2 separate regions of the Homo sapiens genome follow, and region 1 is linked to region 2. Evidence: fine-mapped expression QTL. A gene starts in region 2. The other region holds a variant in brackets. All regions are shown on one strand. Distances are between the middles of the regions. Region 1 overlaps LOC101927467 (a long non-coding RNA gene). Region 2 holds the start of HRH1 (histamine receptor H1).

What was found. PIP is the estimated chance that this variant, and not a neighbour inherited with it, causes the effect. A credible set is the group of variants that fine-mapping cannot tell apart.
Region 1: its variant is the best candidate, but not a certain one, in a credible set for the expression of HRH1 in tibial nerve (GTEx, PIP 0.71).

Annotation. Positions count from the first base shown.
Region 1 is chr3:11,078,196-11,082,584 of GRCh38, forward strand. All of the region lies in intron 2 of LOC101927467 (a long non-coding RNA gene), which reads left to right. Among named protein-coding and RNA genes, the nearest start is that of SLC6A1-AS1, 61 kb to the left of the region's middle. The variant T/C (reference allele first, on the strand shown) is at 2,467.
Region 2 is chr3:11,152,073-11,156,461 of GRCh38, forward strand. It overlaps HRH1 (histamine receptor H1), which reads left to right and starts at 2,421. Exons shown (of 2, transcript NM_001098212.2): 1 at 2,421-2,482. LOC105376951 (a long non-coding RNA gene) reads right to left here and starts at 2,328. Exons shown (of 5, transcript XR_940593.2): 1 at 2,192-2,328. LOC124909345 (a long non-coding RNA gene) reads left to right here and starts at 2,674. Exons shown (of 2, transcript XR_007095817.1): 1 at 2,674-3,059.

The sequences.
Region 1 (4,389 bases), 74 kb before region 2:
CCACTGCACTCCAGCCTGGGTGACAGAGCGAGACTCTGTCTCAAAAAAAAAAAAAAAAAGCGGGAGACTAGCTAGCTAAAACCAGAAGAACAGCCCAGCAGAGCCTAGCTGATTTGTGAGCCAAATAAATATTTATTGTAGTGTGCCACTGAGGTTTTGTGCCACTAAAGTTCTGTGGTTGGTTGTTACACAGTATCTGCTCTACTGATAGATAACTGATACACATCCCCAAACTGATACATTCCCAAAGGGTAATTTATCATGGGAGAAGGCCCTAGCTATGTGTTTACCTGGTCACATGGTTTTGTAAAACTCACAAAAGTAAAAATCTTTAAAATAATAGCTTGATTGAAATATAATTCACTTACTATAAGATTCACCCTTTCGACGTGTACAATGCAGTGATTTTTAGTATATTCACAAAGTTGTACAACCATCACCATTATCTAAGTCTAGAACACTTTATTCATTCCTAAAAATCAACCATTAGCAGTAACTCCCCATTTCCTTCCTCCCTGGCAAACACTAGTCTTACTTTCTGACTCAATACATTTGCCGGTTCTGGGCATTTCGTATGAATGGAATCATACAGTTTGTGGCCTTTTGTGTCTGTCTCCTTTCATTTCACATATGTTTTCAAGATTCATATGTGTAGTAGCAGGTATCAGTGCTTCATTCCTTTTTTGTAGCCAAAGAATAATCCATAGTTTGGATATGCCACATTTTGTTTGTCCATGCATCAAATGATGAACATTTAGGACAAGCAACACATTCTATCCGCAACTGGTTAAGACTCCTAGCTCATTCTACTCACACTTCCCCTCATGACAGGTGGCATTTGGGGAGAGTTGACTTGGTGATACATTTAGTTTGAGATCAGAGCATATATGGATGTGGTTCACCACCTCTTCCATATATAGGTTATTATTATTCTGGCTCCTATGGTTTGAATATTTGTCCCCTCCAAAACTTGTAGTAAAACTTAATCCCTAATGTGGCAATATTAAAAAGTAGAACCTGTAAGAGGTGATTGGGTCATGAGGGCTCTGCGATGGGTTATTATGGGGGTGGGACCGGTGGTTTTCTAAGAAGAGGAAGCAAGACTTGAACTGGCACACTCAGCCCTTTTGTCATGTAATTAAAAAGCGGAACCTGTAAGAGGTGATTGGGTCATGAGGGCTCTGCCCTCATGAATGGATTAATCCATTCAGGGATTAGTGGATTAATGGGTTATCCTGGGAGTGGGGCCGGTGGTTTTCTAAGAAGAGGAAGAAAAACTTGAACTGGCACACTCAGCCCTTTTGCCATGTAATGCCCTGAGCCACTTTGGGACTCTGCAGAGAGTCCCCAGCAGCAAGAAGCCCCTCACCAAAGGCAGGCCCTCAACCTTGAACTTCTCAGCCTCCATAAATGTAAGAAATAAATGATTTTTCTTTCAGGTATTGTGTGATAAACAACACAAAATAGACTAAGACACTGACATAGCAATGACCTCCAGAATAGCCCTATTGCCCCCATGCCAACTTGCCCTGCATCATGACATGAAGGAGTGAGGCCTATGGCTGTACCAAAATATCTCAGTGTGTGGTCTGGTGCCCAGTACCAGAAAGGTGTGGGCCAAAGAAGAGAAACAGTGTTGGAAATGGACAGAGCCAGAAATGGAAATGGAAAATTATTCAGATCATCACAGACAGTATTATAACTGGATTCAGTTCTCACTGACACCTAATCGAAAAAATTTTTTTTTCCATTTGGGCATATGCTTGATAATGCAGCATATCCCTAATAAGGTAACATATAGCATTATAAATATACCATACATTTTTCTTTTTGTGATGGAAAACATACAAAATTGAATTTATCAGAATTCTTGAGTCTGTAGGAGCCAAACCCAAGGCTGTGCTGCAAGAAGCAAGTATGTATATGAAGTTACATCTTGTGCATCCTAACTCGTGGTGAAAAAACGAATTTCAGTCGACCGTGTCAGAGGAAAGGCTGACTTATCATTCTTTTCTCTATTAGAAAAGATTATTAAAAATCATAAACATATGAAAAGTATATAGCAAAACTACCATGAAATGCATTTCAGAGGGTATCAGGAAGTTAATTAACACATATGTCATTTTTCTAGATTTTGCAGTGTTTCTGACCCTTGTCAATTTTTTAAAATTTTGTAACATTATGATTTCTTTTTAAATTCTAAATATGCATATGCATACCTAAATTAGGATTGATAATTTTGAAATCTTTTCCTTAAAGAGGGTCCCCCAAATTATATCAACTGAACCCCCTTCACTGCAAAATGTGGCTCCCTCCTGATACACACACCAGTGCATGCACACACATACCTATGCACCCCCAAGAGCCGACGCTGCCCAATGTCAGGGATGGAAGAGGAATCACAACTCTGCCCTTAGGCGGTGAGTGACTTCTTTGGTCATAAATAGAATCCCACCCTTGAGAAAC[T/C]GCAGAGCAGCTCAGAGACACACCCTACCACTGGCTCATCTTGGACAAACAACACAATTGTTTTTGCAGGCTGTGGTGCTCTGCCCTACCCAGACACCTCCCATCCATAAGGCCCAGCCCTTCCCTCTCCCTCCGTCCTGGCTTTTGGAAATCTTCAGCAGCCCTGTCTGCCTCCAGAATGATCTCTTCAGCTACTCCATACTCAGGGTATAAATCGAGGAAGAAGAACTCTTTTCAGGGGAATATTTGTGAAAGCAATGCTTATCCCTAAGGAATAAGCCACTGATGGTGGAGTTTTGTCATGGTGAAGGATGACAAATGGAAATATTTGTGGGAACTGCAGCCTTCCCACCTCACATATTTTGGGGGGCTCCTTCTCTCTCTCTCATTTTCTGTGTGCGTTTTGACTTCACTCTTCTTTCTGCTTCTGGCTGCTTGTATCTGCTTGGCCTCTACACCACAGGTCAGCACACTTTTTCTAGAAAGGGCCAGACTGTAAGTATTTTAGGTTTTATAGGTGACACAGTCCCTGTTGCAACTACTCATCTCTGCCACAGAGTGAAATCAACCCTAGACAACACTCAAACAAATGAGTTAAATCAACCCTGGACAACACTCAGACAAATGAGTGAAATCAACCCTAGACAACACTCAGACAAATGAGTGAAATCAACCCTAGACAACACTCAAATGAGTGAAATCAACCCTAGACAACACTCAGACAAATGAGTGAAATCAACCCTAGACAACACTCAGACAAATGAGTGAAATCAACCCTAGACAACACTCAGACAAATGAGTGAAATCAACGCTAGACAACACTCAAATGAGTGAAATCAACCCTAGACAACACTCAAATGAGTGAAATCAACCCTAGACAACATTCAGACAAATGAGTGAAATCAACCCTAGACAACACTCAGACAAATGAGTGAAATCAACCCTAGACAACACTCAAACAAATGAGCACAGCTGTGTTCCAAGCAGGCCAGAATCAGCCCACAGGCTGGACTTTGCCAACCCCTGTTCTAGACTTTAAGCTCCCTGAGGGCAGGGCCTGAGTCTGTCTGTTACACCACTGAATTCCTAGGGCCTAACAGCATGCCTGGCATGGATTGAGTGCTCAGCACATATCAGCTGGCTGTGGCTCTCTGTGTCTGTCAGTCTGTCTTGTTTCCTTCTCTGTCCCCTCCATCCATGAAAACTCACTAAGCCTCAGCTTTTCAGAAATGAACCACCTGCTCCCAAGCGAGTCAGACAATGAAAACAGCCTCACACTCTAGCAATCTGCTGCTTGGCGCAGCTCTCACAGGGCATTTAGGCAGTGAAGGGAGCCTAGCACTTAATTCAGCCTCTCTCAAAGGGCTCAACACCAACCTGGGAGAAGCATGAAGATGGAGAGGCTGAGGGAACCTTTGGAGGGCAGGGCTGGTGTCTCTGCAAGATGGACAGCCGCCTTGCAGGCACACCATGCTGCTGCTTCCCTTGCACACAGCCCCCAGTCCCTTTCTCCCTTCCTGTCATCCTTCATGCACTCATTCAATATTTACTGAGCTCCAACACTGTGCTAGAAAATTAGCCCTAGCACAGACATGGAAATCCCTCCCCAAAATAACTTGTTAACAAATAAATTAATGATCAGTTGGACAAAAGAGTGTTTAGAGGTAAGAACTGGTTCTGCTGGCAGCAAACAGGCATGTTTTTCTTTCTTTTTTTTTTTTCCAAGATAGAGTCTTGCTCTGTCACCCAGACTGCAGTGCAGTGGTGCGATCTCGGCTCACTGCAACCTCCGCCTCCTGGGTTCAAGCAATTCTCCTGCCTCAGCCTCCTGAGTAGCTGGGATTACAGGCACACACCACCACGCCCGGCTAACTTTTGTATTTTTAGTAGAGACAGGGTTTCCCCATGTTGGCCAGGCTGGCC
Region 2 (4,389 bases):
CCCACCTGTCTGATCTTGGGAAGACTTACTAGCTGTATACTCTGAACAAACTCCTTCATCTCTTTGTTTTCTCATTTGCAAAACGGGATGACAACAGTACCTACCTCATGGGATTGTGAGGAATCGGTGCATTATTTATGTAAAGCTCTTAAATCAAGCCTGACACACAGTATGCAGTAAGCATGGGGCTGTTACTTTTCTGCTGCAGCCTGTATGTTGTTAGTAAGTTGATTGTGCCCTTCTGCTCCCCAACCCCTCATACAGCCTGGGGTACCTCCTGATCTGTCAGTTCCAAATGCCACAGCAAAACAACCCACACCCTGCTTACCAGGGGCTTGAAATCATGTCTAACATGTTGTTTCTAAGATGCTGATTTTTCTAAAAGTGCTGATCACCATGGGTTTAGCAGGCCTAAAACTAGCCCAGGAAGTGAAACTTTGGGGAGGAATTCCAAATAACCAAGCCTTTGCTGAAATGCAGAATGGAGAGAGGAGGGATGAAAGTGTGGACGCAGCCATTTCCCAGGCTTCCCCCACCCGCCCTGCCCCCATCCCCCCTCCCACCTCCATCCCCCCCTTACCTCCCTTAAGCCCCACAGCTATAGAGAGAGGAAATGTATTTCCTTTAGAATTTATAACAGTTGCTATCCTGAGTGCTAACTCGGTTCCAAAGGGTGCATTAGTCTGGTAAAGTGTAAAATATGGAGGCCCTGGAGAATCACCAGGGAGTGGGAGAGGGCTTTCGTGGATCCAGGGTGAGTCTTGGCTGTGGGGTTGTGCTAATGTGCAGAGGGCTGGCCAGAAAAACAAATGGGACATCCCTGACTTCTCGAATCCATAATGCCCAGGACAGTGACATGGCCTGCCATTATCTCAAGGCCAAAGTCTCATATCACTGGGCATCACAAAGTCCTTTAATCCCCACCTTGCAGATGGGATCAGTGATCTCTGAGCTACCATTTATGGAGCACTAAGCCCTTTATAGAAATGGCATCATGAAACTTTCCAACAGCCCCACGGAGATGAAGTTATAACAGCACCTTGGACCTTGGGGCCAGGCTGAGTAGGGTGGATGCTCAGTTCTCCTACATGTGACCTTGTGCAAGTTACTCAATCTCTCTGTGCCTTCATTTTCTCACCTGTAAAATAGGGATAATAATAGTTCCTACCTACTAGGACCTATTATTGTTGTGAGGATTAAATGAGTAAGCATCTGTAGCACTTAGAAAAGCATCTGACACAATGGCCCCTGTCTTTATGAACCCTTGTGTTACCGACATGGGCCCTGAGGCCAAGAAAAAGGACCATGGACCTACCATACACAGCTTGTGAAGCTGAGCCTCAGACCCAGCTCTGTGTGGTCCACAACCAGGGCTGGTGGGACTGCTGCTACTGGGAGGAGGCTAAAATACCCCTCTGACCCCCACCCCCACACCCCAACCCACCATGTCCCACCTCCTCAAACACCCTCCTCTCCCTGTGAGCTTAGGTGGTCCCTTCGAAACTGCTGGGGTAAAATCTGAAACCATAACTGTTCAAAGGTTCAAATGGAGTTTTCCCGGCGCTGAGAAGGCAGAAAAACCTCGACCTCTCTCTCCCAGCTCTGGAAATGAAGGCAGCCAGGAAGAATCCTCAAGCTCCCATTGCCAGGGACAGAGGTTCCCGGGGACCTGCAGAGGGGCCTCACCCCCACCCCACTCCTCCCCTTGCTGCTCGGGGTGGCACAGGTTGCTAATTAAAACACATCCTATTTTGAAATGTGGGCTCATTCATCAGGACGGGCTAGGGAGAAACAGAAGAGAGGTGTGAGGTTGTAGACCCTGGGGTCTCTTTAGTTCCCCGAAACCTCTAGGGGTAGGGTTCCTACTGTCAATCTTGTTCCACCTCTGTCTGACTTTGCCTTTTTCGATTTTGGCGCCCCTAGCAGGAATGAGGGGCGCAGGTATCACTATTTGTCTTTTTCAATCTATCTGTGATTGACTCTGCCAAACATCGTTTCATCTCTATTTCCATCTGTGCCTCTTTGTCTTGATTTATCTCTGTCTGTCGTTTTGTGTGCCCGCAGGTGCGTGGGTGGGGGTGGAGTTGTCTCACCAAGGTTCTGACCCTTCTGCCACCCCTCCTTCCAAACCCAAGGAGCAGTCCGCCTCGCAGAGCCCGAGCCCGGGTACCCAGCGGGAGCAGCTCCAAACCTGGGGCGCGAGCTGGGAGAGGGTGTCCGAGCGAGAGGCGCGCCCCTCGCGCCCCCTCTCTCCGCGGGGGCGGCCCTGGGCGCGTGGAACCGGGTGCGGGGGCGCTGCAGGCCCGCGGGGCCCGGGTCCCCGCCTTCCCCGCTGCTCGCGGGTGGGCCCCTCGGAGCGGCTCCTCCTCCGGCGCCCCGCTCCCCGAGAGCTCCCCGGCGCCCCCGCCGCCGCCCCCGCGACACCCAGCAGCCTGGCCGCCGCGGCCAACGCGCCACCAAACTTTCCCCGGAGCCGGCGCCGGTGAGTCGCAGCGGGGCGCGGGCTTGGGCGGGAGCGGGGCCGCCGCGGCTGGGCGAGGCTGCGCGCTGGCCAGGCTGGGTTCCGGGCATCCCGGCAGGGCGGCCGGGAACCCCGGAGCCGCCCGCTTGAGAAGAGCGCGCTTGGGTACCCTCGCGACGCGGGTGGCCTGGGGAGGGTGGCGGAGGGCGGCTCGCTCGGTGGCACCGCTCCCCTCTCCACACTGTGGCCTCAGCACTCGACGCGCAGACACCTTTAGCTTCCCCGGGCTTGGGCAGGGTGCGCGCCCTGAGCGTCCGTCTTTGAGCTCGGGCGAGCAGAGGGGGAGCCTCGTTTTCTTTGAGCCTCCCCAGGGTCTGAGTTCGCTGCTAACCGTAGTGCCAGCCCATTGGTTGAGTGCGTTCACTGTGCCAGGCTTTGGGCATCCATTATCTGTTGCAATATTGTTATACTCATTTTACAGAGGAGGAAACTGAGGCTCGGGGAGGGAAGTTGTGCCCAGGAGCATCAGCTGGTTAAGGGGAGAGAGTCAGGGTTTTGCTCGGAGTCATCCTGATCCAAATCACTTGAATACACTGAGGTAAGCCCCAGGCTCAGCGTCACCTGGAGTCGGGGGTGGGAACTGTCCGGACCACCACCCGCCCTTCCCCTGCAGTTCGGCTGCAGCTGGGGGTGTGGAGCAAGAGGCGGATCACCTCCTCCTCGTTGTACCGAGAGAGGAGGATGCTTTGGGAAAATGAGTGGATATTATGGCCAGGGAGTGGATTCTGGTGACAGAAAAGCATCGGGGCTGCTCTTTCAGAGATCAGATTCTAGAAGTTGCTCTCAGTTTTTCTCGAAGGAGCCCAGGAAGCCAGGAGCAGGAGCTGGAGTACAGCAGCTCCTCAAGGAAGTCACGTCTCCTGCTCTGTTACCCCACCCCCAGCCCCCAGTCCTCCATGAAGATCCCACCTCTTCCCTCCTGATTCCCTGATCCCTCTGAGGTGTCCGCTTGCCTGGCAGCTGATAGTGCAGAGATGTTCCAGGCAGAGTGGCTGTCCTCCGGCAGAGGGCTCCCGCCTCAGCCTGGAGCAGACAAGACGAGGCAGGCTGGGAGTCCTGGTGAACAAGGTTTTCAGGCTGGAAGGTGCCTGAATAACTCATTTCATGATTGCGGGGCCAGAAACCTGTGACAGGAGCACAGACGGAGTGTGTCCCTGGAGCATGAAGGAGAGGGGAATTGAGGGTCTTATAGGAAGAGTCTTGGAGGCAGCCAGAAACCAGCAGAGACTGGGAGAGAGGGAGGGTGTACACATGAGAGCATCATTATGCATTATCCCATCACAGCATTCTTGGAAGGTAAGTACTATTATTGAACAGATAGTCTACTGAGGCTCAGAGAGGTTAAGTAATTTGCTTGAGATTGCCCAGCTGGTCCATGACAGAATTGGGGTTTGAACACCCATGTTGCCTGACTCCCTCTAGATTATGAATGAAACTGAGGTGGCAGATGGGACCTTAGCTCCTTCTTTGCTTGTGTCTGGCAGCAGCAAAGGATGAATAGAGGAAAGCCAGGCAGCAGGTCCACTGCTCACAGGAATCCTGGACAACCCCATGTAAATCCTCGAGTGTGATTCAGGCATTTCTCCTGGTGTGGGGAGAATCTACGGAGAAGGGCAGGGGATGCCTGGCATTGTTTTCATTTTCAAATGTGACAGAGAATCCCGTGGAGGCAGGAGATGGACAGGTGCTGCCTGTCCATGATTTCAGGGCTGGGTGGAGGCCGGAGCAGCCTGCCAAGAGACCCTGCACCCCAGAGTGGTTTGGCCAATGCTGGGCTGGGAGTGGTCCTTCCTGACCCTCAGCTGAGTGTCCAAGGGAGGAGGGACTTATACATGAGCCTCCTCCTCTTCGACTCTCTCAGAATTCTG